Regions from separate parts of the Homo sapiens genome. Here regions 1, 2 and 3 are each reported to be linked to region 4. Evidence: microRNA targets listed by miRTarBase, many of them from high-throughput screens and not tested one by one. Region 4 holds a microRNA gene; each other region holds the end of a gene's coding sequence.
The links. The annotated mature microRNA hsa-miR-6511b-5p reads CUGCAGGCAGAAGUGGGGCUGACA and lies in region 4 at 4,446-4,469, opposite strand. An mRNA with a match to its seed (bases 2 to 7 or 8) in the 3' UTR can be bound and repressed. Matches are read on the target gene's strand: a 7mer-m8 pairs with bases 2 to 8, a 7mer-A1 pairs with bases 2 to 7 and ends in A, and an 8mer does both.

Region 1: miRTarBase lists SIX6 as a target of hsa-miR-6511b-5p. Seed matches in the 3' UTR shown: 7mer-A1 at 1,044-1,050.
Region 2: miRTarBase lists TRIM73 as a target of hsa-miR-6511b-5p. Seed matches in the 3' UTR shown: 8mer at 1,062-1,069.
Region 3: the mRNA of NFASC is a reported target of hsa-miR-6511b-5p. Seed matches in the 3' UTR shown: 7mer-A1 at 1,830-1,836, 7mer-A1 at 4,100-4,106 and 7mer-m8 at 5,123-5,129.

What each region holds. Positions count from the first base shown.
Region 1 is chr14:60,510,292-60,517,405 of GRCh38, forward strand. SIX6 (SIX homeobox 6) reads left to right here. Exons shown (of 2, transcript NM_007374.3): 2 at 793-2,559. The coding sequence ends at 961. It also overlaps a transcript of C14orf39 not described here. Among named protein-coding and RNA genes, the nearest start is that of SIX6, 4.7 kb to the left of the region's middle. RefSeq lists enhancers at 723-1,494, 4,568-5,069 and a silencer at 4,791-4,960.
Region 2 is chr7:75,404,414-75,411,527 of GRCh38, forward strand. It overlaps TRIM73 (tripartite motif containing 73), which reads left to right. Exons shown (of 5, transcript NM_198924.4): 4 at 426-656; 5 at 769-1,192. The coding sequence ends at 795. It overlaps LOC124901676 (a long non-coding RNA gene), which reads right to left and starts at 5,940. Exons shown (of 2, transcript XR_007060389.1): 1 at 5,770-5,940; 2 at 3,295-5,549. It also overlaps the pseudogene NSUN5P1. RefSeq lists an enhancer at 5,722-6,662.
Region 3 is chr1:205,016,094-205,023,207 of GRCh38, forward strand. It overlaps NFASC (neurofascin), which reads left to right. Exons shown (of 30, transcript NM_001005388.3): 30 at 215-6,729. The coding sequence ends at 446. Among named protein-coding and RNA genes, the nearest start is that of CNTN2, 24 kb to the right of the region's middle. RefSeq lists enhancers at 1,892-2,689, 2,690-3,485.
Region 4 is chr16:16,321,944-16,329,057 of GRCh38, reverse strand. MIR6511A2 (microRNA 6511a-2) reads right to left here and starts at 4,470; the gene lies at 4,404-4,470. It also overlaps the pseudogene LOC131696449 and the pseudogene PKD1P1. RefSeq lists enhancers at 4,081-4,883, 4,953-5,808.

The DNA.
Region 1 (7,114 bases), not on the chromosome of region 4:
AAAGCTAATTCTTGTCAGCCTGGGCACAGGCTCCTACTATTAATCGAAGCCTGGCTTATTAGCAATGTGTCGGTTTCATGTTAATTATCATTTTCAAAGCCCAGGTATATCCCTCCCTAATGCTTTGAAAACAGTTTTCAATGGACTTTTGAGAAATGGGAAGTCGAGTTTTCCTCTTCCCATGCGCTGCCTGCCACTCTTGTCTCAAAACAGCAAACTAGTCCGTGGGCCGAGGCTTTTCGTTTCCCGGAGTGTGGATCTCGATTAGCCAAACATTTTGCGGAAGAGCCCGGCCTCATCCCCCAGGCCCAAATGCTCCTTACAATCCTTTTTGCCTTTAGGTCGGGCCGACCCGATCCAACGCGATCGCGGGAGCACTTGCTCAGGCGTAAGCCCCAGGCAGACGCACCGTTAGAAATGGTATCCCATGTCCCTGGGACCGATCTGTCCTTGTCACCCACACTTCGTTTATTTCCTGACAGTCCTGTAAATCTCCCAAAAGTGCACAACAAACAGGGAGGACACTGCAAGCCCAGTATATAAAAGACCTGGGAGCTGCGGCGCTGAGAAAGGGCGCGAATCATGGTGGGGCACAACAGTAGGGACCCGCGGAGGGGCGGCCGCGGACTCCTGCCCGACCTCTGTCGCCTTGCCGAGTAATCCTCGCCTTAACTGCTGGGGTCTTCGGAAGAACCTCTAGCCGCCGGGCTGGAGGGACGCAGGAGGTGGTGGGGGCGGGCGACGGGCGGCTGTGTTACGAGCTGTGACCCGTGTTCCCTTTCTTCCCCGTAGACTCCAGCAGCAGGTCCTGTCACAGGGTTCCGGGCGGGCACTACGGGCGGAGGGCGACGGCACGCCAGAGGTGCTGGGCGTCGCCACCAGCCCGGCCGCCAGTCTATCCAGCAAGGCGGCCACTTCAGCCATCTCCATCACGTCCAGCGACAGCGAGTGCGACATCTGAGTTGCCCATCCAGGATGCTCAGAAGCAGATTCCAGTGTAAAAACGAGAAAAACAAAATGAAAGAGGGGAAGAAGATGAGAGACCTGCAAATCCAGCGCCACAGAAGCCAGGTGACCAGGGACCCGCGGGCTCGGGTTGCCGTTTCCCGCCCCACCCCGCGGCCGGCCTGGCTTCACTGGCGCCCTTTGGCCGCGACCACGGGAACCAGCGGTGAGGCCTGACCCAGCACCACGTTCTTCTTGCTTTGCTTTTTCCTAAGGATTTTGCTGCAAAGTCTCCTTCGGAACCCGAACTGCAAGCTGAGCGCCTGCCCAGATTCTCCCATGGGTATTTCACGTCGAAAGGACGCTGTTACATATGTATAACTTTCGCTTTAAAGTTTTTTTTTAACAAAACATATATATGCTGTTTATTTACTTATTTAAGAGACCGCCATGGTAGGTTTCTCTGTAGCTTGGGGAACTTGCTGTTTCTAAACATGCAGGCTGGTGGTGATGGGTTCTGTGTGGAGAAGCCAAACAATAAAACAACCTAGTGGGCAACCTTCTTAATTAAGGGAGCTGCTCTCAGATTCCTTTTCTTCTTATTATTATTAATATCATTCCCTTCACCAGGCATGCAGGGACCCTTGAGCAAATGGTCTCCGGAAGGTCTTACCTATATATCTTTTGCCTTCTTTGGTGCTTCCTGGTATATGTTTTAAACAACCTATGGTAGGTCTATAACCACCTCCCACGTCAAATTACACGTATGTGCATATATGTATGTACCTATACAAACATATGTATGTACCTATACAAACATATGTATGTATGCATACACGTGATATATTTAAGGCTAGAAATTGGCAACATGTGAGCGTCCTCTCTAAGGCAAGTCCCCGCATCCCCAGCACAGGTAATTATGGCTTGTCCACTTGACACTCGTTTACATGAAGTGTCAACAGCTTTCAGGAGCAATTTAGGAAGCCAAACTATGGGACTCAATAAGTGAGTCCTATTTTCTAAAAATGCAAAACTATCCTGACTCAGGCTCTGCAGCAAGAAAGGCTTTCTGTCTCCTTCAAGGCCCCCTCCAATACAAAAGCAGCAGGCACCCATGATCATGCTAGAGTGAGCATATACTGCATTTAGGATTGAGCTATTATTAAAATAAGACAAAAGATGATAGAAGAGGTTGTAAATAATTAGACTAACATCTTCTTGCTGCAGAATTTGGTTTTAATCAAATGAATGGTTTTTAACAAGAGGGATACTGAGATGGGGGAAAGGATGTAATCATGTCACATACTGAGGGTAAAACAAGGCTGTAGAAATAACTGGCATTTTAAAAACCTAATCTCCGAATTAAGCATAGAACAAGTCATCAAGGGCCTCATTGTCCTGGTAATGGCCTCGATTAAAACATAAAATATTTTTAGCATTTAATTTTTCCTCGTGCACATGCATGTATGCACCTATACATGAACAAATGCATGCATATACAACGCAAAAACATCTACCATCTTTGCACTAAGAAAATAAATGCTAGCCAGAGTCTCTAATTTTGTTCCTAGTGAAACAGATTGCATATTATAAAATTTGACATTGATCTTTAAATCACTTGAGCTGACTTCCCTCTTTACTGTCCCCATCCCCCAATTACAGCCTTTTCCATTTGCCTTTCTGTCCTTAGAAGATGTTCTTTGGATCAGAAGCCTGCTAACTTCTTTAGGCAGAAGTGCCAAAGTGCAAACCAAACAAAAATAAGTGAAGTCATGGAAGACAAAAAGCAGCCAAACGGCAAGATAGACAATGGAAGCCCAGGACAGAGTAAGGGTTGATTTTTGGTTTCTAAATCGCTTGAATAGATTTGGCTCATTTGGGCTTTATAAATGTTGTCCTTGTGTATGGTGGCCCTTATCCAGAGAATTCTTGAAAATCAAAACTCTCTTGCACAAGAGCTTTACATGGAAGGAGTGGGTAAGTTTTCGTGATAAAACTGGTGTTCTTTCCAAAAGCAAGCAAAAGCCCTCCTGTGGGTCCTGAAAGGCTCCCATTGTAGAGCTTCCTCAGTACTTAATTTTGTTTCCTAGAGCCCCAGGTAGTTCCTAGAATGCTAACGAGGGGCTGGCGAGGACTAGAGTGAGGCCAGGAGGGGACTCACGGTCAAGGTTATGCAAGTGCAGCAAGTGCAAGGCACATGAGATTGAGTGCCTCCTTAAATTTTGCACTCTAAGTGCCTCCTTTGCCTCATCCTAGTCCTTAATCTGACAAGGAGTAGCCACGGATATCCACTCTTGTTCCCCAGCCCCACCCCACCCTTAGCTATGGGGCTGTCCAGAACCAGTGTTTGGAGAAGTTTGTTGGCAAATTTTCTCTTAAGTTTATGCTTCCAAGTCCTAGAGGGATGGGAAATAACTAATTAGTGGAATAATGTAAAAGAATTTGAGATTCTAAAAATCCCACTCCACCCACCCCTTCAAATGATACCTAAAAGCAGAAGAAAATGTCCATTCCGCAGTGTCAAGAAAATAGGGTAACTAAGAAACTAAGCTTTCTCTTTACAAAATAATTTTTAAGTGACAGTTTATTGCTTGGACAAAAAGAGAAGACCAAACAGTGATGGAGCATTTTTAATTCCTGCTTTGACAAAAGCCTTTAAACTACAGCTACCATTTACTTAAATTAACAAGCTGCCTACATTTTAAAGTAGCTATTCTGTTTCAACAATCTGGATATTTATTTATTTAATTTCACTTTAGAATCTTAAGGGGGTGACACATTACTTGTAAGATTTTTTTAAATGTTTATCTGTAATGTGATGGCACCTAATTGCCTCTGTGAATAACCAATTCTTTGGTGACCACATATTGGAAATTAGTCCAGATCTTCACAGAGATTTATTTTATTTTAATCTTTCCAATCTTCCCAAGGACATTTAAAGGGTTTCTTTTTAAGACTTTTTCCATATCAGCTTCATTCTGGTCTTCAGGGTTTTGGGGGGAAAAAAAGTCCAGGTAATGGCAAGGCTGAAGGTTTCTGAATTTGGCAAAATCTCTATATAATGGGTTTCCTTCCTTTCTTTTCCTGCAATTCTTCTGTCACAATTTCCCAAAAAGCAGCTACTCCAGCAGAGTGGAAAGAGCATTTTTATATTAAATATTTCAACGGACCTGACCAATGTGAAGATTTTACCCCAAGCCCCAGGTCAGGCTCTTTTCCGGCTTATAAACATTTCAACCACACTCCAGTTTCACCAAAAAAAACGACGGCCCCTGCTCCCCAAATGCCGCAGTTCCTCTCGCCTCCACTTTAATGACCCACTCCACTTCCACCCGTCACTCCCTCCTTTCCCTTCGCCAGTTTGTTTATAAAAAATCTGGGAGGGAGGGGAGAAGACGATGGGGGTGGGGAGGGCTTGCTCTTTGTTTACATTAAACAAATGACAGGCAAAGAGCTCAAGCAAAGTCTTCCTTGACCTCGTTCCCTCTCCCTAATTTTAACAAAAAGGAAAAAAATATTGTATCCAAAGAGAATGTGAATGGGGCGGGAGGAGAGGAGAAGCAGCTTTTCGCTCTATTCAACGGGGACGCGAGAGCGCGGACGATTTCCGCTCCTTTTGTGAGGCGGAGCCCGGGGGCGGCCGTGAATGGGGGGTCTGTGGAGCGGCCGGCGGGGCTGTCAGGCGGCTCTGCGTAATCAGGGCTAATGACGGCGGCCGGGCGCTCGGCGGGACAATGCGCGGGGCCGCGGGGTTTTGTCGGCCTGAATGGCTAATAGGTTTGCCTGTGAGCTGCGAGGGGGCGGTGTCGGGGAGGAGGCGGCGGCGAGGGGAGAAGGGGTCATTGTCCGCGCGCTGGCCCGGGCGCCGAGGCGTGTCCCTGCCTGCGCCGCGCGGCTACCCCCGTGCCCGGCGCCGCCGACGGGAAGGCAGCGGCGGGGAGGCCCCCTGGAGGCCTGCTGGGAAATGGCGGCTGGAGCGGCGGGCGCGTGGGTCCCCTCGGGGAGGCGCCCCAAGCCACGGTCCGCTCCCAAAGAGAAGCCCAGACTGGGCCCACAGTACCCGGGAAGGTGAGTCCTTACTCGGGGGCCCAGATCTCCCCACGGAGGCCACAGATCTGGGTCCCCGAGGAAGGAGAGCCCCCCTTTTCGCGCACCCACCTTTTCCATCCAGCGCCCCGCGAACTCGCGGACGTGTAGGCCTCGAGCCACTCCTACTGTTGGGCTGCGTGACTCAGCGGCTCGAGGAGAGAAACCTCTCAAAACCGGGGGACCGAGACGGGGTTCAATTTAAACCTAGGTGGGAGAATGAGCCCACAAGCGCGCGCCCCTGCAGCTGCGGAGGCGCGCGCCCGCCCACCCTCGGGCGCCTGAAGTCGCAGCGGTTGCAGAGCCTCGAGCCCGTGGATGCGGCGCGCGCCGCGGTCTGGGCCTGCGCGAGAGGCTGCCGCCCGCGTCGGGCCTGGGCCTACGCGTGTCTGGCCTGGGCCTGCCGGTGCAACAGCAGTTGTCGCCACCGGTCCTAGGCCGCGCCGAGCGAGTCGCCGAGAGGGGCGGGAAGAGGGGAGAGGTCCGAGACCAGGGAGCGGGACCTAAAGGGGGCTTTCCGCGCCCGACAGGTCCGCCGGGGTTAGCCTTCGAGGCGGGGAGAGGGAGCGGGGTCCTTCAAGGACCGCATGTTCGCGATAGCACATTTGAGCCCTGGCAGGCCACCTGGGCCGCCTTCTTTCGGAAACCTTGCGGGGTTTCCAAGCAAGGTTTACAATGGGAAACTTTATTTCCCATTGTAAGCTCTTACAAATCTCCTCTGGCTAGATCCTTCCTTGCAGCTCTCTTTGCTAGGATTTATATTCCCAAACTTCTTCAGACGTGCCCTACCGCGAGGGAACGAACTGGTTTTCTTCCCGTTTTCACCTCCTTGTCTGGAGACAAAGGGGTGTGAGGGCGATCCCAGAGCTGAACAAGCAGTTTCACGCCTCCCTGCCCGCTCATGCTGTTTCCGCTTGCCCTGTGGTTTGCTCTGCCTGGAACGCCGCCCCCTACCTCAACTGCTACCCTGTCATTCCACAAAGCCTACCCCACCTCCACTAAGTTTTCCGTGAGCCAGTGAGCTCCACACAGATAATGTGCCACCACCTTTTTTAATGCTCCCACCGCACCTTATCTAAACGTCTGTTTTAGCGCTCTAACACTTTTGCTCATTTATTTGTCTGTCTGACTTCCCCCTTCAGCCTTTGCTAGAATGTAAGCTCTTTATTTAAAGGCAAGGACCAACTCTTACCCATCTTTGTATTCCCAGCACCTAGCCCAAGTAGTAGGTGCTCAATAAATGTTTTAAAGCTGAATGAATTCATGCATCTTCCTTGAAATCTGTCTGCTCTTACGTTAGTGGGGGACCTCTGCTAGCTCGGGAATCATTTGAAGAGAAGAGATGACTTATATTGGCTGGACCCAAAGTTCACTGTAATCCTCCCAGCTCAGTAAGTTACTGGCTGTTACCTACTTGTCGGGTTCTCTGGGATGATTCCATAGAGTGCTGTCTCCCTCTAGGCATGCGGTTTTTTTAGAGTGCTATGACTTTGGGTTCATACCATGAAAATTATCTTCTCACACAACACATTTTCCCAAAAAGGTAAGAGTAATCCTCTTGGATTTTGAAAATTCTAGGTATTATACTCTCTGAACCCTACAACATAAGAATTTCTATTCTGCTTCAAAGATAACTGCTATGGTTTAATGTTCATATCCCTCCAAAATTCATGTTGAAACTTAATCCCCAATGCAGTAGTATTAAGAAGTGGGACCTTTAGGAGGTGATTCACTGCCCCATGAATGGAATTAGTGCTTTTATAAAAGGGCTTGAGGAAGTCTATTATTTCCTTTTTGCCCTTCTGTCCTTCTGCCACGTGAAGGTGCAGGAAAAAGACACCATCTTAGAAGCAGAGAGAACCAGCCTTTACCAGACACAGAACCTAACCAGGCTTTGATCTTGCACTTCCCGGCCTCCAGAACTGTGAGAAATGTATAAATTACCCAGTCCAAAGTATTTCCTTTATAGCAGCAGGAATGGACTAAGACAATAACCCTTTCCTTTCTCCTCCCTCCCACCTTTTCTCTCCTCTGGCTTCCCCACCTCACTCCAGTCCTGACCTACACATGATAAAGTAAACCA
Region 2 (7,114 bases), not on the chromosome of region 4:
CTGAAATAGGCAAAGTGGGGTGTGGTGGCGTGCATCTGTAATCCCAGCAACTCGGGAGGCTGAGGCGGGAGGATTGCTTGAGGCTGGGAGGTCAAGGCTACAGTGAGCTATGATCGTGCCACTGCGCTCCAGCCTGGGCAACAGAGTGAGACCCTGTCTGTTAAAAAAAAAATTAAAAATTAAAACAGGCCAAAGCAGAGCCTCTCCATTTGAAATGGGAGCTGGGGCCACCCTCCCCACGGCCACCGCCAGGGCTCCCCATGCATGGGGTGAACTCCCTGCCCGGCGCCAGGCCATGCAGCCTCCCCTGAGACTCAGGTCCCAGGACCAACCCGGTCAGGAAGGCCCTGGGGACACCGAGGCCAGCCAGACAGAGCCTGGCAGCTCGGCTGTGACTCTGCAGTGAGCAGCCCTCCCTGTCCCAGAATGAGTCGGATGTCTTCAGCTGGGTGATCCGCCGCGAGTTCCAGGAGCTGCGCCACCCGGTGGACGAGGAGAAGGCCCGCTGCCTGGAGGGGATAGGGGGTCACACCCGTGGCCTGGTGGCCTCCCTGGACATGCAGCTGGAGCAGGCCCAGGGAACCCGGGAGCGGCTGGCCCAAGCCGAGTGTGTGCTGGAACAGTTCGGCAATGAGGACCACCATGAGTTCATCTGGGTGAGTGGACAGGGAGGCGTCCCATCCCCATACCCGCCAGGGCCTTCCCCTTCCCAACAGTGCCCTGGCTTCCCACCTTCTAGCCTTAACCTCCCTCTCTCTTGCCTTCCAGAAGTTCCACTCCATGGCCTCCAGGTAATAACCTTGGAGAGAGCTCAGCCAGGGTCTGGTGGCTGCGGGCACGGGCATCTCAGCTCCACTGGTTCCTCCATTCAGCTTAACCAGCGCCTCCCAAGCAGCTGCCTATAGCTGGCTCTATAACTGAGCCTGGGGAAGATAGAGGAAAGTCACGTCCCTGCCTTCAAGGGTCTCGCAGACAGGTGGGGAGGCAGATGGTGAACTGTGGGTACCTAGAACAGCAGAAGTTCACTCAAGCTACAGAAATACTAGAGGAGGGTAGCTCATGCCTGCAATCCCAGTACTTTGGGAGGCCAAGGCAGGAGTATTGCTGGAGGCCGGGAGTTCGAGACCAGCCTGGCCAATGTAGTAACACCCCCGTCTCTACAAAAAATACAAAAATAAAAAAATTAGTTGGGCATGGTGGCATGCGCCTATAGTCCCTGCTACTCATAAGGCTGAGATGGGAGGATTGCTTGAGCCCAAAGTTTGATGCTGCAGTGAGTCATGATCATGCTACTGCATGATCCAGCCTGGGTGACAGAGCGAGACCCTGTCTCAGAAAACAAAACACTAGAGGAGGAGCAGGTGTCTGGGAGGCCTGGCAGAGGGGCACACGCCTGATGGCTGAGAAGGGCCCAGGACCCGAGTTTGCCAGGCAAGCCGAGGGAACAGTCCTGTAAAAGGGGGAGTGGCGTGCGGACTCTGGTTATGAGAAGTTCAGGGTGGCTGGATGTAAGGCAGGATATCAGGAGGAGTGGGAGCTGGGAGAGGTGGGAAATGGCCAGAAGCAACATCCAGGAGCACCAGGCATCCCTTGCTTACCGTCCTCACCCTTGCGCAGCAGGCAGTATCAGCCCTGCCTGAAACTTGCTCTGCAGATTGTGGGAAGAGAGCGGATCCATGTTCTAGACCCAACAAACGAACACGTGCAGTTCCCAAGCCTTCCTCACTCCCTGTTTATGGGAGACTCCTTGTTTCTCACATTTCTTTTAGTCTTAGAGACAATTTGGTCAGGAGACATGGGTTTAAATGAAGGCACAGAGCCTGGGCACAGCAGCTTACACCTGTAATCCCAGCACTTTGGAAGGCCAAGGCAGAAGGATGACTTGAGGTCAGGAGATCAAGACCAGCCTGGCCAACATGGTGAAACCCTGTCTCTATGAAAAATACAAAAATTAGCTGGGTGTGGTGGCACATACCTGTAATCCCAGCTACTCGGGAGGCTGAGGCACGAGAATCTCTTGAACCTGGGAGGTGGAGGTTGCAGTGAGCTGAGATTGCTCCACTGCACTCCAGCCTGGGTGACAGAGCAAGACTCCATCTCAAAAAAAAAAGAAAAGAAAACAAGAAAAAAAAAAGTCCGGGCATGGTGGCTCATGCCTATAATCCCAGCACTTTATGCTCAAGTCTGCTTTTTTTTTTTTTTTTTTTGAGATGGAGTCTCGCTCTGTCACCCAGGCTGGAGTGCAGTGGCACGATCTCAGCTCACTGCAACCTACACCTCTCAGGTTCAAGTGATCTCCTGCCTCAGCCTCCCGAGTAGCTGGGATTACAGGTGTGCACCCCATGCTCAGCTAATTTTTTTATTTTTAATATAGATGGGGTTTTGCCATGTTGACCATGCTGGTCTCGAACTCCTGACCTCAAATGATTCGCCTGCCTCGGCCTCCCAAAGTGCTGGGATTACAGGCGTGAGCCACCGTGCCCAGCCTTGAGTCTTTATTTTTAGAGACAGGATCTTGCTCTGTCACCCAGGCTGGAGCGCAGTGGTGCAACTGTAGCTCACTGCAGCCTTGACCTCCCAGGCTCAAGTGATCCTCCTGCCTCAGCCTCCTGAGTAGCTGGGACGACAAGTGTCTGCTACCATACCCAGCTAATATTTAAATTTTTAGTAGAGATGGGATCTTGCTATGTTACCCAGGCTGGTCTGGGCCTCAAGCAATCCTCCCACCTTGGCCTCCCAAAGTGTTGGGATTATAGGTGTGAGCCACTGTGCTTAGCCTCCCATAACCCTTTGATTCACGATACTCATAGGCTAAGTGGGTCCTGGAAGCTCCGGGGTAGCCTTCTAACCAAGATGCTGGCTCTGGCCACTGGAAGTCAAACTGGGTGCACAGACCAGTGAGAGGGCATGAGGGAGCCTAGCAGGGGTGAACAGCAACCCTCAGCCTCCCCACAGCCCTGCCTCTCCTCCTGCCTCTCCTCGGTCTCCTTTGAGGATTCAGCCTCTCGTCCTCACCACTTATGGTCTGAGGGCCTCCAGGCTCCTCTTCTGGCTGTCTACCCCTCCACACCCATAGCTCCAGTCATCACTTCCACAGGGATGACTCAGAAGTTCCCTCTCCGGGAGACCCGTCCCTTACAGGCCACATCCAGTAGCGCTCCAGCCATTCAGCAGCTCCGCCTGGACGTCAAGGGCATGTCCAAAACCGCGCTCATGATCTTCCTACTCCCCCATCCCTGAGATTTATCCTGTGGCTGTGGTGTCCTGTGGCTACTGTAACAAATGACCACAAACTTGGTGGCTTCAAACAAATTTAATCTCTCATGGTTCTGAAGGCCAGATGTCCAAGATCACGATGACGGCAAGGCCGCGCTCCCTCTGGAGACTGTCGGGGAAAACCTGCCCCTTTCCTCTTCAGCTTCAGGTGGTGGCTGCCATGCCCTGGTGTTTCCTGGCCTGTGACCGCATCATTCCAATCTCTGCCTCCATCTTCACGTGGCCTTTTCTGTATGTGCCGGTCTAATCTTCCTCTGCTTCTCTCTTATTTTTTGTTTTTTGAGACAGAGTCTCACTCTGTTGCCCAGGCTGGAGTGCAGTGGTGTGATCTCGGCTCACTGCAACCGCCACTTCCCAGGTTCAAGCAATTCCCTTAACTTAGCCCCCTGAGTAGCTGGGATTACAGGCGTGCACTCAGCAAATTTTTGTGTTTTTAGTAGAGACGTGGTTTCACCATGTTGGCTAGGCTGGTTGTGAACTCCTGGGCTCAAGGGATCCACCAGCCTCAGTCTCCCAAAGTGCTGGGATTACAGGTGTGACCCACTGCGCTTCTCCCTATAAGAGAGGCCTTCCTCTGCCTCTCTCTTATAGGGATACTTGTGATGCCATGCAGGACCTGCCCAGATAATCCAGGATAACCTTCTCTCCAAATCCTTCCCCTGATCACTCCTACAGATCTCTTCCATAGAAGGTGACATTTCCAGGCTCTAGGAATTAGGACCTGCTCTCTCTGGGTGGCCGTTGTTCACTCCACCACCCCAGGTTTCCCCATCCTACCAAAAGACACAGCAGCATTGTGTCAACTGCCCAAACTGAAAACCTATGAGTTATTCTCGACCTGACCTTTTTCCTGAGCAAGTTCTGTGGATTTAACTTAGCGGTCACACTGCCAACTTCAACCGAACTCCACTGCCACCAACTCAGTCCAGGCCACCAGTTCTTGTTTAGGTGACTGCCATGACCCCCATTGGTCTCTCCCTGCCTCAACTCTGTCCCCTCCATCCTATATCCCCACACTGTAACCAGACTGATTATTTATTTATTTATTTATTTTTTGGGGAAAGAAGCTTGCTCTATCCCCCAGGCTGGAGTGCGGTGGCACAATCTCAGCTTACTGCAACCTCCGCCTCCCAGGTTCAAACGATTCTGCCTCAGCCTCCCAAGTAGCTGAGATTACAGGTGTCTGCCACAATGCCTGGCTAATCTTTGTATTTTTAGTAGAGACGGGTTTTGTCATGTTGGCCAGGCTGGTCTCAAACTCCTGACCTCAAGTGATCCACCTGCCTTGGCCTCCCAAAGTGCTAGGATTACAGGTGTGAGCCACCGCACCTGGCCAGACTGATCTTTAAAGAAGTATACATGAACACAGCACTCCATGACTTAAAACCCTTAAGAGGACTACCATTTATCTCAAGATAAAAGAACAAAATCCTCGCTGGGCACAGTGGTTCATGCCTGTAATCACTGCTTTGGGAAGCCGAGGTGGGAAGATCACTTTAGGCCAGGAGTTCGAGACCATCCATGGGCAACATGGTGAGACCGCATTTCTACAAAAGATAAAATTAGCTGGGTGTGGTGGTGCACGTCTGTAGTCCCAGCTACTTGGAGGGTGAAGTGGGAGGATCACTTGAGCCCTGGAGTTCGAGGCTGCAGTGAGCTATGACGGTGCCACTGCACTCCAGCCTGGGTGACGGAGTGGGACCTCATCAAAAGCAAAAACAAAACCGTTATTGTGGCTTTGAGGCCTGGATCATAACTACATCATTTAATTTGGCCAAACCGGCCCATTTCAGGTACCCAAATACCCCACGTGCTTTCTTGCTTGGCTCTGGGACTAATGTGGTTACTGGTGCAGGGTGAGTGGCAGGTATCATGAACCACATTGTGGACCTGGAGTTGCTAGGACCTTTTCTGCCATTACACAGAAAAATCCTCCCTGAGAACACAGCCATTGGAGGACACATGGCAGAGGAAGATAAGACAATAAACAGAGACACATAATTATGGCCAGCGTGGGGGCTCACGCCTGTAATCCCAAAACTTTGGGAGGCCGAGGTGGGCAGATCACCTAAGGTCAGGAGTTCGAGGCCAGCCTGGCCAACATGGTGAAACCCCGTCTCTACTAAAAATACAAAAATTAGCCGGGCGTGGTGGCACGGGCCTGTAGTCCTAGCTACTCCAGAGGGTGAGGCAGGAGAATTGCTTGAACCTGGGAGGCGGAGGTTGCAGTGAGCCAAGATCGCGACACTGCGCGACAGAGTGAGTCTTTTTGTCTGAAAAAAAAAAATATATATATATATATACACACACATACACACATATATATATACACACACATATATATATGAAATGACCAATACACATGTGAACATATTCAACGCAATAACTGCGGTTAAACAGCAGTAAAATCCCATTATTTATCCATCAGATTGACAAAGACTGAAGAACTGGAGAAGAAGTGGCGAAACGGGCTCGCAGCGTCGCATTCCCTACCCCAGCAGGTGCGCCCGCAGCGTCGCACTCCCTAGCCCGGCAGGTGCGCGATCACACACACACCCTGCAGGGGGACTTCGACCGGCACTTCCGGTCCCGGAAGGGCATGCCCTTGGACCCCGGAAGTCCGGGCGGGGGCAGAGCCGGGTGCGCTTTGCGACAGAGCCGTAAAGGCGCGCGGGAACATGGGGCTGTACGCTGCGGTGGCAGGCGTGCTGGCCGGCGTGGAGAGCCGCCAGGGCTCTATCAAGGGGCTGGTGTACTCCAGCAACTTCCAGGTAGCGGGCCCGGGCGCCACAAGTAGGGGTGGGGGGTGAGGAACCCGGGGTGGGGTGGGACGGGCCCGGATGGGGTCGGGAGGTGGGGCCCGGCGAGGAGGGCCGGGGGAGCCCCCGACCCAGCTTGTCTCCCTCGGCCACACAGAACGTGAAGCAGCTGTACGCGCTGGTGTGCGAAACGCAGCGCTACTCCGCCGTGCTGGATGCCGTGATCTCCAGCGCCGGCCTCCTCAGTGCGAAGAAGCTGCAGCCGCACCTGGCCAAGGGTAGGGGCGGGGCGGGGAAGTGAACCCCGACGGTCAGCGCTTTGTCATCTGGTTTCAGCCCCGCTGCCGTGCACGGCGGGACTGGAGCAAGTCGCTCACCTGAAATGAGTATGAGCAGACCTTCCCTGGGTTACGAATTGAGATGGGATGAAAATGCTTTAACTTCGAGTGTTTTGAAGGATTAAATAACCGAAGTACAAAGTAGTAGTAGCGGAGACAGTAAGGAAGTCGGGCGTGGCGGCGCGCACCTGTGGTCCCAGCTACTCGGAAGGCTGAGGGGGGAGGATCACTTGAGCCCAGGAGTTCGAAGCTGCAGTGAGCTGTGATGTGGCCACTGCACTTCAGCCTGGGCGACAGATCTAGACCCCATTCTAAAAAAAAACAAAAACCCCAAACCCACACCCACGAAAGGGTAATGTTGGCAAGAAGCTGGGTGCAGAGGTCTACTGGTGAACATCTGTGGGGAAAGGGTCTAAGGCTGGGAAGCGAGACGCCAGGTTCCGATCCTGTTGTGTAGTTAATTTCTGGTGTGGTCTTGAGTAAGGTACCCCACCTTTATCTGTAACCATCTAGTCAGGTGATCTCTTTAGCCATTCCAGTGCCCGGGCTCTATTAGAGTTAGTTCTAAGGCATTCATACTTCTTGCTTAGGGCGTTTCTGTCTTTGATCCCTCATCCCCAGGTGCTAGTGTATGAGTTGTTGGGAAAGGGCTTTCGAGGGGGTGGGGGCCAATGGAAGGCTCTGTTGGGACGGCACCAGGCGAGGTGTTGAGTTGGCTCGGCTCAAGGTTCTTCGGGGTGT
Region 3 (7,114 bases), not on the chromosome of region 4:
CCTGACCTGCAACCTCACCTTAGAGAAGGTGCTTGTCCTCTCTAGGCCTCCATTTCCCTTCTGCAAAGCAGGCTGGACAGGGGAGGGTGAAGCGGGGGCTGGACTGGGCGGTCTCCTGGATCCCATCCTCTCTGAGCTGTGTAGGGCATGTGCTGGCAGGAGGCCAGCTGCCCCATCTCACCCCACCTGAGATTCTCTGTCTCTCTTTGGCCAGTGATGAGGACAACAAGCCCCTGCAGGGCAGTCAGACATCTCTGGACGGCACCATCAAGCAGCAGGAGAGTGACGACAGCCTGGTGGACTATGGCGAGGGTGGCGAGGGTCAGTTCAATGAAGACGGCTCCTTCATCGGCCAGTACACGGTCAAAAAGGACAAGGAGGAAACAGAGGGCAACGAAAGCTCAGAGGCCACGTCACCTGTCAATGCTATCTACTCTCTGGCCTAACGGAGCCCACCCAGGCACAGCCACCACTTTGCAAGTGGGAGGAGGGGAGAAGGGGAGACAAAACCACTGCAGACCTACCACGAAGCCACCACCACCTTCAGTAACAAGGGTACGATATGGGGGTCTGCCAAGCTGTGAGGACCAGTAGCCACCAAGCCACCCACAAGCCCCCTCCCAATGACCCCCCTTCAGCCCCGGGTGCCACCAGTGTGGGAGAGCTGGAGCCGTGGCTGAGCTCAGCTGGAGGGAGCCTGGCCCCTTGCCCGGTCTCGCAGCCACCCCGAGCGTTCCACCACACTGTCCGCCCTTGGCCTCGGCACACGCTCACCTTTTCTGTTGGTTACGGGACTTCTCATTGTCTTAATTTCGCTTTGTGCATCTTCCCCTCCAGACCCAATGTCTCTGTTTTCTTTTCCTTTTGAAAAAGAGTCCCTGGAAAAGAAAGAATAAGTGGATTCTCCCCCAGGAGAATCCTTTTTGCAAAGATAGGCAAAAAGGATTGAATCCATACCAGAACACGTAGACAGGCTGTAATATTCAAACCACCTCTGGGCCAATGCATTTCCAAAGGATGCCTTTCTCGCCATATGCCTCCCCTGGCCCCCAGCCCCTCTGCCTCGGCCTTGTCAGTTGCTGAGCTGGGCTTGGCTCCTTTCTGGAAAATGACAGTATTTTTGGCAGGGAGAAGGTGCGCAGGCCTCCTTGCTGCTCTCTGGTTTGGTTGGGAGGTGTGTTTACCTCTTGCTCCTCATTCCTCCCCTGCCCTTTTCTCTGGAATATCTAAGATGTGAGCTGCATTGACTCTGAAGACGTTTGAGGAACAGGAGTGGGCACTGATAGAAAGGACTTCAACGCCAGTGACTGTGTACCTCCAGCAGAAGAAAATCAGGTGTCTGGTCTTGGGGGCACTGTGCTCACTTCTAGAGAGAAGAAAAAGGCTGGGTTTGGACTTCATGCCTCCTCACTGGTGAAACCCAGGATGTAGATAGAGGGCCACACCCACCCTGTCCAGAGTAGAGGGCACCTGTCCACGTGGCCAGGGCCCATGCTGCCACCCTCGAGGAGATGGAACCCTGTGATGCAAAAGCTTTGCTGGTGTGTTTGGGGCATAAGGCACTGCTCCCCTTCCATCTCTAGCAGATATCATCTTCTCAGCCAATTCTGTAGGACACTGAGGCTCTTGTTTGACATGGTGTGTGGATGGGGACTTGCCCCAAGACTGAGCAGGTCTGCCCTTTCATTGGGGTGTATACATATCAGGGGACCCTGAGGTGGCACCGTACTCAGTGTTGTGATGCCCCCACCTAGGGAGGACTCAATGCTCTTTGTATGCCTTATGCAGCGCTGATCTGTCCCTGGAGTTCCCAGGTTCCCAGCTCCCCCCCTGCAAGCCTTGAAGCCTCCAGCAACGTCTATCTCCAGGAGAGCAGGGCAGCCTATGCAAGTGTTCCGGCAGGACCAGAAGTGGCCACTCAACACACGTCCTCACCAGTCACCCCAAATGGAGACACTCGCAGACCTGCAGTTCTCAGACCGAAGGTGCTGCCTTCATCCTCCCCACCTAATGCATTTTTGAAACCAAAGGTACCTAGCCTCAGAGACAGAGAAGGAGAGGGGGAGATCTTGAGTCTAAGAGGAACCCTTTAGCTGTTTCTGCAGCTGAGGTCAGTTTCAGGAGGGTGAAGCTGATCCCCAGGAATGGATCAGCTGCCATGGGCACAGCCTCCGATTTGAGCCTCTCCGGCTGCCAGCCAGGGGGCCTGGGCCAGACCAGGGCTCTGTCCTTCCGTGACTTTATTAAAGCAACATTTGCCACATGTTTAAGCCGCAAAGGTATTAGCAATGCTTGCATCATTAATAATCATTCAGTTGAAGGTCAAGCCCATAGACACACACTCTCTGCTGGTAAGAAACCATAGCCCAGAACTGAGCCAATAAGGTTGTTTGAACCTGAGAGTGTGTAATGGTCATTTGGGCCAAGCCTCAGCTAGGGCTGCTGCCTGGACGCCTGAGGGGCAGCTTATCACAGTGCAAGGGGACAGGGTAAACAGCAGGGGGTGGGGTGTGAGCTTGGAGGGCCCCTCCCCTGGATTTCCTCCAACACCTGCTTGGATACTAGGCCCACTGTCCCTGAAGGGAATGTCAGGGAAGTGTGCCTGTGAGCTGAATTAAAGGACTGGCCTTTCCAGAAAACGCTTTGGATCTGAGCAGAGTAGTCAGTTTCTCAGACACTCATTCCATACTGCACCGTACATGCCAGCGTACCCATTGCACCGAAAGCAGGCCCTTAGGGCAGGAAGGGACGATGAGCAAGTCTGCCACACCACCTGGTGACTGGGAAGGGCTGCTTCTCTCGTAAGGGTCTTGGGGAGAAGTAAGCCCGCAGCCTGCCTCTGCACCTCGTTCCAGTGTCCTGCCAGGCTCTGTACTGTCCTTTGTGTATGAAGAAAATGCTGTTAGCCCTCTCTCAGGCTGCTGTTCTGTGGGTGCTGAGAGCTGCCCCCCATCACCACGCCATCACACCCCTCTGAGCAGAAGCAAATCTGAGGCTGAAGAATTAAGTTTTCCCCAAGCAAGGAAGGCAGGTGGTCAGAGAGATCAAACGCTGAGGCGTGGGGATTGCAGGATTCAGGAGGCAGCCCCTTTGGGGAAGAGGAGGGTGCATTTTCCATGGAGCCCATGTCAGAGTCCACTCCAGCTCAGCAGGAAAGTGGAATTGCCCAGTACTGCCTGCCAGCTGGGTCTCCCAAGCAACTACCCCAAGACATACCAACAGTGAAGCCAGGACAGCACCATGCCATCGGCGCTCCAGTCTGTCTGGCTGGGAGGAAAGTGCTGGGCATCTTACAGTAACTCTAGAAGTTCCTTTGACTAGGCTGCAATCCCACCTATATGCTCAGCCCTAAGAGCTGTGGTTTCCTGTGCTCTCATTTGTCCATTCATTCATTCATTCATTCATTCAGCAAATAATCTGAAATCCAGTCTGAACTAAGGCCTGAGCTGTGGATACCATGGCGCGTGAGTTAGATGTGGTCCCTGCCCTCATGGGGCTGACAGTCCTAAAATCAAGTGCTAGGACACAGTGGCCATTGAGCTGGGAGCATTCTTCCCTCTACCGCTTAAGCCACTGATGGCTGCGAGCTTGAAGAGAGGGATTCTGAGGGAGAGCTTGGTCCATCTGGTCACCAAGGCTGGGCGGGACAGAGCAGTCAAGAACCACGGTGTGGCTTGAGAAACAGTCCTGCTTCCTGAGCCTCTTTGCTCTGCCTCTTGGGGCAAGCTCCTTAACCTGTCTGTATTTTTATGCCTCTGTCTCCCATTCAGTTCCTCCTTGAATACCTCTTTCTACAGAGAGGCACGGGCTCCCCTGAAGGATTGTCGAGGCCAGGGTTCGGGAAGTACACTGCCATCGGTCAGGGGACAGCTGCCTCCCACCTTGCCTGGGTGATGGTGAATGGGACTCATCTTTTCCTGCCTTGCTTTTGAGGAGATGGTTGAATTTAAGCTAACAGGAAAGCCAAACCAGCACCCTCCTTTGTGCTCTGAGAGGTTGGAGACATCTGGTCCACCCCATTGCCCCTGCCCCTGGCAAGCCCTGAAGTCGGGAGAGGTGACCACAGGTCTGAAAATCAGCCAGTGCCAACATTGCTTGCCCTGCAAGGTGCAACTGAGCCCACATAGCGCATTCATAGTTTCCCTGACCACAGCCTTGGGAAGACGGTGGAAACCCGAGGATGTGTGGGTTTCCCAGCTAACGGACAAGCTCCCCTGCCACACCCAGTGCCCACGCATGCTCACATACATACAGCAGACCACAACCCTGTTGCCAAGCAGTGCTTCCAAGGGATAGCGATCCAGATTCCAACATTGTCTTGGAGAGGGTTAGTCCACATCCAAGTTGCGTGAGATAAGATGCAAAGGGCTCTGTGTGGATGAGGAACGCACCTTAGAGGAGTGGGAAAGGCCACCAGGGTTGGGCCCTGTTTAGGTAATTCCTGTTGGCAGCACCTAGAGAGAGCATCTGAGCTGAAGGAGTGGGAAACTTTGCCCAAGCAATGGCACGGGCAGCGGGCTCTTTCTGGCGCCCTGTGCTGGAGCAGGGCCAAGTCTTAGGGCATCACAAACAGCCCATTTGATGGAGGGAGCAGGGACATAGCACATTTTTGTCTGTCTTTGTGAGGCTGCTTTGCTAACTCTCTGAGGAGAGGAAGCCTCTCGGGCTTTCCGTCGGCTGGGGCTAGTGCCAGAGAATCCCTTCTCAGTGGCCAGCAGGTTCCTGGGAGGCCGGCACAAGGCACCGCTCCCCACTCATGACACCTTGGTGCAGAGTGACCTCCTGCCCAGTCACCACTCCGGCCAGCCCCAGCCAAACACACAAAAGCCCATGGTTGCGGTTGCATCTACACCGTTAGTTGGCAAAGGATCCTGCTTGAGCTCTGCGTGGTGGCCAAGGAGTAGCATGGAGGAGGGCCCTGATTTTAAAAAGGAAAAATAGAGAGGCCTCAAAACAATGAAACAAAGAGCTTGATATGTCAAGAGGAGACCAAGGCCCTGGGAGGCATAGGCAAGCCGGGCAGAGTCAGACCAGTGCCCTCCCTTGACCATCTCCTAGCATTCCTTAACCTAGACAGGGGCTACCCCATGTGAGTCCAAGCCAGACTTTGTGGCTGTCCCCAGCCTGCACAGCCCAAGCCCAGGGAAGTGTCCTTTCTTTCCCTTCCTTACTAATAATGGGCCTTCCTGAGACACATTCAGAGAAGGATCAGAGAGAAAGGAGAACCATCCAGGAGAGCCACAAGCGTCCACCAAACAGTGTCTCAGGCCTCACCTGAAGCTGCTGTTCCTCCTATCAGCACACTAGTATTAAATGGGTGTTCCATAATGAGGAGAATGGAAATAGGTACAAGGCATCTAGCTTAGGACAGAATCGGATTTCGGCATGTGAAGGAATCCCAGAGCTGATCTCATTGAAATGATCTATCGTACAGACAAGGATATGCAAATCCACAGAAGTGAAGGGATTTTTGCTCAAGATCACATAGCTGGTAAACTAAGGTAAGGTTAGGGCTTGAACTTGGGCCTTCTGACTCCTTGTCCAGTCAGTGTTCTTTCATCTCACCACAGCTGCCTCCTTTGAAACAGAGGTATTAAGATCTGTCCTTCTGGTTCACCCTCTCATACCTCTTTACTGCGTCTCCCACATCCCCCACATGCCTCCCAAAATGAAAGACAAACAGGATTGTTTCTGAGACCAAGATCAGTCTGTCTGTGATCAGCCTGTGTGTGGTTCACCCAGTCATGCAATTAAGGGCAGATCTGGGCCAGTGGAATAGGATAGCTGATTGGTGTTTGTTACTGTGAACCCTAGACCGTACCCCGTAGAATGGTGTCTCTTGCTTTGTAACACATCGGGCCTTCAGTGTGCTGTATTCCTCAGAAGTGAGGGCATCTCGGTCCATTCTGCCCATGGCCACAGGGTGCAGAGAGGCAGCAGGGCCCATGCAAGCTGCCACCCTGGGATTTGCTGGGCTGGAGTTCAACAGATGTAAAGACTTCAGTGAAGCAATAAACACAAAACTCTGGGAGAAGATATCCAGAATTTTGTACATTACTCTGTTTCTTTTTCAAAAATGAGGCAGATCAGATGCCCCTGAGCTGCCCCTTTTTTTCTGATTCCCAACTGCAATGTCCTCAGTCAGTGTTGTCCCTCTGCCCGGCTCCCCAGCTCTTTGCCAACCTCTTCACACTCCCCTTGAGCTGAGCATCAGTCGCCTGTGACGTGGCCACCTTCTGTCCTGCTCCCACTCCCGACCCATGCTGGACCCCGGAGGACCTCCTGCCCCGCCCCCACCACACACCCATATCCCCCACCATTCCAATTTGTTCTTTCCCGTGGGGAATTTTTTTTCCCAGCGTCTCCATCCCTTCCTACATATCCACACACACACAAATTGGTCTGATCTTTTTTCCATTGGTTAAACATTTAACTCCATGCCAGACCTTGTTTTAACCCCTCTCACATCATGTTCTTTCCTTTTTTGCGAGTTATTTTGCATTAACCAACTTTGTCAGTGACAGATGCGTATCTGAGGGTGTCACACACGACCTTCAGCAGGGAAGACTTCTGGGCCATGGAGGGCCGTCTAATACATGGACTTATAAACTGACTGCATGAGCAATGAAAAGGCCAAATTATTCTGAATTTTTTTTGAATCACTGTAAAAAAACTGATTTCTTTTGTATAGAGAACACTAAACGTATAATAAAAGTTGTTCAAAATGGACTCTTGCCATGTGATTTGCTCATTTTCTTGATTTGTTCCTGTTGGTAGGTAGGAGAGGGGTGTCAAAGAGCTGATGGCAAAAGTGGATCAAAGGGTTTTTCATGGGTGCCAGACAGCACACTCTTCCAGAATTCTACCATACCATCCCCCCTCTAGAAGTTGTTATTCTCGAAGACTCACTTGCACAATTTGTGTTTTAAACATAGTGTGACTGGTATAGGAATGTGTAATGTGTACAGTCGTGGAGACACCCTCTGATTCAACGTGATGCGTGTGCACATCCACCATTGAAAAAGTGCCATGCTAGGGAAGTCGGGAGAATGGGAGAAATTTGCCATGGTGCTCCGTCTCCTAGCCCCCTCCTCTTTCTGCACCGCTTGCCCTT
Region 4 (7,114 bases):
CACCTCCAGCGCCGACCAGCGGAAGTGGCTGGAGAGGTTCAGACGGTAACTCCCCACTGGGTCTCTGGTCCTGGGAAGGGAAGGGGCAGTGGACGTGAGCCCAGGCTCCGCCAGGTTGGATGTCGGAGTCCCAGAGCCCATACCCGGTCCAGTCCCCTCGCTGCCTGCCGTCCCCACGGGGCCCGTAACCCGGGCAATGCTGACCCATGATGCCCTGCCCTGCCCTGCCAGGCCGGCCCGCAGAGCTCACCCCGGGGAAATGAAGAAGGTGTAGGGCCGGTGGTCGGCACCCTGGAGGGACTCTGGGCGGATCCTCCTGCTAGCCGAGCAGTTGCGCTCATTGGGCCGGGGCTCCGAGTGCAGGTAGACTGCCAGGTAGGGCTCGGGTTCCTCAGACAGGTAGCGGCCTGGGGCAGAACGCGCAGGTCACACGCCTGCCGGGAAGCTCAACCACCCGGGGGACACCCACGATGGCCCTCCTGAGCCCACCCTCTGCCATGGGCCTGAAAGGCCATAGGAGCCTCTGCACCAGAGCTGGCACCTGCTTCTCCGTGGCCCCCAGCTCCTCTCCGGCCAGGCCCCCAGCAGCCCATGAAACAGAAAGCAAATTTCACCAGAGACACCCATGGAAGCCCTACGAGAAACGCCTTCCCCCCAAGAACAAGGCCAGGGGGCCGCGTGTGCCCCAACCGCTGCATGCACCGTCCAGCAGCGTATAGTTGAGCTGCAGATGCAGCACGGCCGCAGGGTTGCTGCTGTCCAGGGTGACCACAGCACCGACGGAGGCCTGGGGCTGGACCACAACGGAGTTGGCGGAGCTGCGGTGGCCCCGGGCAGCCCAGTCCGAGTTGTTGGGCACCTTCACGGTGAGGCGCGCTCTGAGGCCAGCCGCTCGATGGGGATCTGGGCGCCGGCCTGTGTCTGGAACGCCATCGAGGCCACCTTGGTGGAGACGGTGTAGTTGCTGATATAGCCAAAGGGAAAGGGATTGGAGTCCACCAGAAAGATGAGCTGCACCACGTCACTGAGGTTGGCCGGGGCCCTGCTGAAAGCCTAGGGGATGGAGAAGTGGCAGCCAGGCCCTGGGGCGCCGCCATAGCACAGCAGGCTCCGCGGGTCCGAGCGCTTGCCCTGGGCCACGATCTCCTCACCCGCCAGCGTCAGGGGCTCCTCGTTGAGCACGCGGGAGCGCGTGACGATGGGCGTGAGGGCAGAGGTCAGGTTGTAGGCCTGGGACGCCACCATCCGCGATGGTGACTCGGCTCCCAGCTCTGAGCGCTGTGGTGCCCGCACGTCTGAGCTGGCCAGGTGGATGAGGTCTCCTGCAGACAGGCGTGAGGTCAGTGCAGAGACAGGGAGGCAGAGGGAGGGTGGGGGCAGGCAAAAAGGGGGAGCCGGAGGGTGGGGACTGGGAGAAAGGGGGAACCTGAGGGGGCAGAGAGCGAGGTGCAGGCAGAAGGAAGAGGGAAGCTGGAGAGAGAGTGGTGGAGGGGGAGGGGGAAGGGGATGGGGATGAGGACGAAGATGAGGGGGATGATGGGGAGAGGGAGGAAAAAGGAAGGAAAAGGGTAGAGAAAAGAGAAAGGGGAGAAGAAGAGGAGCAGGGTGAAAGGGAGGGGAAGGGGATAAGGGGGATAAGGGAGGGGAAGGGGGATAAGGGAGGGGAAGGAGGATAAGGGGGATAAGAAAGATGAGGGGAATGGACAAAAGGACGGGGAGGATCGGGGGGGAAATGGAGAAAAGGGGAGAGAGATGGAGAAAAGGGATGGTAATAGGGAAGGGGGAGGGGGAGGAGAATGGGAATTGGGGGAGGGGGATAAGGATGGGAATTGGGGGAGGGGGATAAGGATGGGAATTGGGGGAGCGGGATGAGGATGGGAATTGGGGGAGGGGGATGAGGATGGGAATTGGGGGGAGGGGAGGGGGACGAAGATGGGATGGGGCAAAGGCGAGGCGGTTGTGGGGAGGAGGGAGGCAGAGGAAAGGGCGGCATGGGGCGGACGGGCCACGTGGGGCGGGCGGGTGGCGTGGGGCACGGGCCGCGGCACCTGTGATGTTGAGGATGCTGTCTCCGATGGCGGTGGGCGTCACGGTGCCCGCGGTGGTCTCTGCCTGCAGGATGCGCATCATGGCCTCCAGCTTGTGCAGCGTCTGCTTCAGGCACGAGCGGCATACGAGCTCCCTGCTGGGCCCCTGTGTGGAGCCAGCAGTGTCCAGCCCCGCTCCTGGCCCCACTCCTTGCACACGCCCTCCTCTCTACACGGGTCCTCACCTGGCTCCCACCCCCAGCCCTGCAGCTGGAGAGCCCACTTGACTGGACCCCCACAGCCTCCTCACTAAGCATTTTTTGTGGCTCTGCATGACCCAGGGCCTCCACCTGGGGAACACGTGATGCAGCCCACTGACCACACAAGGCACCTCTTCACATGAGAGAAGGAGGAGGGCAGAAGGGAGAGAGGAGAGGGAAGTGGAGAAAAGGGGGGAGAGGAGAGGGAAGGAGAGAGAAGGGGGAGAGGAGAGGGAGGGGAGGAAGGAGGAGGGGAGGGGTGAGGGGATGGAGGGGCTGGGGGAGGAGTGGAGGGGCTCAGCGGGATGAGGTGAGGGGAAGGTCTAGGGGAGGGGAGGAGGGGAAGGGCTAGGGGAGGGGAGGGGCTGGGGGAGGAGGCAGGGGCTAGGGGAGGGGGGAGGGACTAGGGGAGGGAAGGGGGAGGGGAGGGGTTAGGGGAGGGAAGGGGAGGGGAGGGGCTAGGGGAGGGAAGGGGGAGGGGAGGGGAGAGTGGAGGGCACAGAGCAGCATCTTCTTAGTCCCTCCCCACATCTGGGCCCCTCTTTACACCCTGGGTCCCCCGAGAGGCACCCTGCGTTCACACAGGACAGCAGAATGGCTGAGGCTACTGAAGCAGGTCAGAGACCGAGGAACGCCATGGCAGGAAGGAGCCCAGGCTGGAGGCTCAGCTCCTCGGCCAAGCTGCCCGTCTGCCCTGGGGGGCTGAACCCAGTACCCTGGCAGGCATGCGGGGCGGGGAGAGCATGTGGGGCCATCCTACCATGCACTGGGCCAGCGCAGCAGCGATCTGCTGGATGTCATCCACAGTGTGGACCCTCAGGGACACCAGAGTCTCCGTGATGTTCTTGCGTATCTGGGCTCGGCGCTGCCGCTCGTGCTTGGGCTCTGCCGCCACGTCCAGGGCCCGCTCGTACTGGGGCAGGCAGGGGGCACAGCAAGCTGTCAGCAGGGCAGGAGGCCGGCAGGAGGCCAGCAGATGCCCACGACTCCCGGGGTGCAGTTACGTGCTAGATGCTGTGTGATGTGGGCACTGACCCGCAACACTGAGCTGTTTCTTCATGGGCAAAACAGGGTAAGCACATGGGCCCTCCTGGGCGGGGGCTGCATTGTGGAAAGCAGACGCCGGAGAGGGCCTGGTGGGTGTGGCTGCTGGGAGCGGAACGTCGGGGTGCTGCTTCAGGGTCACTGGGATTTATCTCTGGGGCCCGGGATGAGCCCTCCGCAAAGCTCCAGGCAGGGGAACAGGTCTTGGTCCCCAGCACGCATGCAGCAGATGTGAGGTCCCCTCCCAGGCTGCACTCACCTCGTTCAGCACAGTGACCAGGGCCAGCGAGTACTCGATGACGTGCTGGGGATCGGCCTGCCGCAGCAGCCCCGGGAGCACACTAGCGGTGAGCCCGTGCAGCCAGACTGTGAGCCCCATTGCGCTGCCGTTGGGCTCTGGGAGGGTGATGGCCAGAGACCTACGAGCAGAGGGGGGTGGTGAGCAGGTGGCAGTCTCGGGGGCGCCCTCCCACGGCCTGGCTCACCTGTTGAGGGCGACCACAGCGGCTCCCAGCTGGTCCTGCACCACCACGGCCAGGCCCACCTCGAAGTGTGGCCTGAAACCCGGGGGCAGCACGGCTCCGTAGCCGGAGAGGCTGCCCTTGTAGACACAGAACTCCTCGCAGTGGCCCTGGCGACAGCGCTGCAGCAGCAGGGCGTACACCAGCGGGGCGCCAGCATCCTCCGCGTCATGCCAGCCTGAGGGACGGTCCCCACGGCATCACAGGAGGGCTCCGTGACCTCACAGAGTCGGGGGATCCCGCTGCTCCCCCTACGCAGGCCTGCACTCACCCATGCATTCGAAGTGCACCTTGGTGGTGAGAGCGTGCACAGCGCCCAGTGGGAAGAGGCAGCAAGAGCCCCCCAGCGGCGGGCGGTTGGGGGACAGGGGGATGGAGGCGCAGCCCTCCTCCTCGCCAGAGCGGCCCAGCACCGTCAGCGTGAAGGTGTATCCCTCGCCGTCCCGCAGCACGCCCCGCCGCAGCACCAGTCACATGCCTGCGCTGCCCGTGGATGTGGTGGTCTCATCCAGCACCAGCGTCTTGTTGCTGAACGTACGTGCAGCCCACCGCTGCAGGCAGAAGGGATGGTGAGGGGGCGCAACCCTCTGCCCTGTCAGCCCCACTTCTGCCTGCAGGCCCCGTCCCCTCGGCCATGGGACCCATCCCCAACCCGCCCACACCCCGCTCAACACTCACCCCTCGCTTGGAGCCGCTGCTGCAATTGAGGCAGCGGCCCTCCAGGTACACGTAGGAGCTGCGGCTCACTTCGTACACGGCCTGTGCCTTGCAGGACACACACTCCAAGGACACAATGGGCACCCGGCCACTGCGGATCAGCACCTGGCGTGGGAGTGGGGTTACCTCCAACACAGGTCTATTTGGCCTGCTGGAAGGTCTGGGGGACCCGTGGAGGATGCTGCTCCCAAACTCCAGGTTTCCCAGGGGCCTGGCCACTGCCGGTGAGCTCACCCCCTCCCAGGATACTCATCCGGTTTGCCACCTTCCAACCTGGGCGGCGGAAGGGCATACACAGGGCAGAGGACACTGGGGTGTGCGTTCTGGTGTACTGGACCCAGCTGGACCCTGGCAGGAGGCAGGCAATGCTCACTGAGGGCCCCTGGGGGGATGCGTGTGGGAACAGACGTATGTGTGGGTGTGAGGACCGCAGTTGCCACGTAGGCCTGACTCACAGACTCCTGCAGCCCTTAGCCAGGGCCTGGGTCAGGAGGCTGAGCCGGGATGGAACCTGCTCCCACACCCTCCCCTCAGACGACCCCTCTGGGCAGACCCCCAATCAGGCCAGCTGAGGAAAGCAGGGACTGGGGAACAGACACCCACTCTGGGGTACCAGCAGGCCCCAGTCAGGGAGGCGCACACGCTCACAGAGGGCAGGGAGGCGCACACGCTCACAGGCACCTGCTGCGTCCGGTTCTCGAAGGCATTAGATGCCAGCAAGGTCAGGACGTACTCACCTGTGGGGACAGGCCCAAGTGGGGCAGCCGCGGCACCCCCACCTGCTCCCCACCCGCTCGGCAGAAGCCCCCCGCCTGAGGAGCCCGGGGTGAACGGCTGCACCTGCGGCCCAGCCTTAAGGGTCCCAGGCTCCCAAGCCACGTGCGGGACGGAGCACAGGTGCAGCAGCACTGAGGGCTGCCTGGTGAGGACGGCACCGCCTCCAAGTGCAGCTGCACTCGGGGCAGCAGAGCAGCAAGAGCCAGGCCGCGGTGGGGGGCAGTTCAGGGGGCCCAGCTTCCCTGTCCACTCCTCCCACGCCTGGCCCCTCCCTCACCCCAGTAGGGGCCTAAGCCATCAGCCCAGGTGAGGTCACAGTGAGGGCTGTTGGGGAGGAAGCGGGGCAGCTTGACTGGGGGACTGGGGGGGCCCCGTGCTCAGAGCCTGAAAGGCAGTGGCCCCCTCACCCCCTCATCCCTCACCTGGGGCAGCGTAGGTGTGGGTGACATTGTGCTCCACCAGCACCTGGGCCACCGAGGGGTCTGGAACCGGGAAGGACTCGTTGTACGGAGGCTGGAACTGGTGGAGGGCCTGCTCCCCATCCCCAAAGGTCCACCTGCCGGGGCGGTGGGAGGCAGTGAGTGAACCGGGACAGGGGTGCGCAGTGGCGGGGCACAGGTGCGCGGTGGCGGGGCAGGGGGTGCTTGGGACCCAGCCGAGGCTCCACTCTGCAGTCACGCCCCGGGCCTCCATTCAGGGCCCACCCGGCTGTGCTGAGGCCTCTCCCGGCTCCCGTGCAGCCTCAGGGCTCCTGTGCACCCAGTACCTCCCAACAGACAGGGAAACCGAGGCTCAGAAAAGCAACCCCCTGATGTGGGGTCCCTCGGCTGAGGCTGGAGCCGGGACAAGAGCCTGGTGCCCGGACAAGAGCCTGGTGCCCACCCCAAACCGGCCCCTGAGTCACTCACAGGAAGGCCACCTCCACGGCCGAGTCCACCAGCACGCCCGCCGTCAGTGCCAGCGTGGCATTGGGGGACAGCACGGCTGGCACTGTAGAGACCCGCAGGCCCTGCATCCTGTTCATCCGCTCCACGGTGATGTTGTAGTTCACGGTGACGTTGCTCACGTGGTTGGAGGCCGTCAGCTGCAGGGACAGGCATCAGTGGGCCCAGGTGGCAGGTGAGAGGCCTGCCCTGCTTGGCGTCCCTCCCTCCACTCACCACAGCCATGGCAGCGTCCTCGGGCAGCATGAAGCAGAGCAGAAGGCAGAGGTGAAGGTGGAGCCCGCCCCCGCCCCGCCCCATCCCCTCCCCTCCCCACTCCCGCCCACCTACTGAGAGCTTGAAGACCGCCGCGCTCTGATAAATGACATTGAAGACCACGTTCTGGAAGGTCAGGGACTGCTTGTCGTTGATGGTCCACCGGAAGACCATGTCCGAGCCGGCCTCCACCACGGGGCTGTACCTCTGCGGGGGGACTGGTGTCAGCCTGGGCTCTGTGGAGGACTCTGCCCTTAGCCTGTCGCCTCCTGGACACACCTCCCGTCGGGCTGGAGAGTCCCACGCGGGGCACAGAGGAGAGGAGGTGCCCGGGGCTCTGCATGCCATGAGAGCCAAGCCCGGGCTGGGACACTGACTGTCCGGCTCTCCAGCCAGCCATGTAGTACTACTAATGCCTCAACCTCTCTGTGCCTCAGTTTCCCCATCTGTAAAGCAAACCTAGTACCAGCTACAAAGAGTCCACCTCTCTCTGAGTCTTCTCAGACCCTCCCGGGGCTCCTGCCCCAGCTCCTCAGCCAGAGAGCTCGGAGCAGTGAGGGGAGGCACAC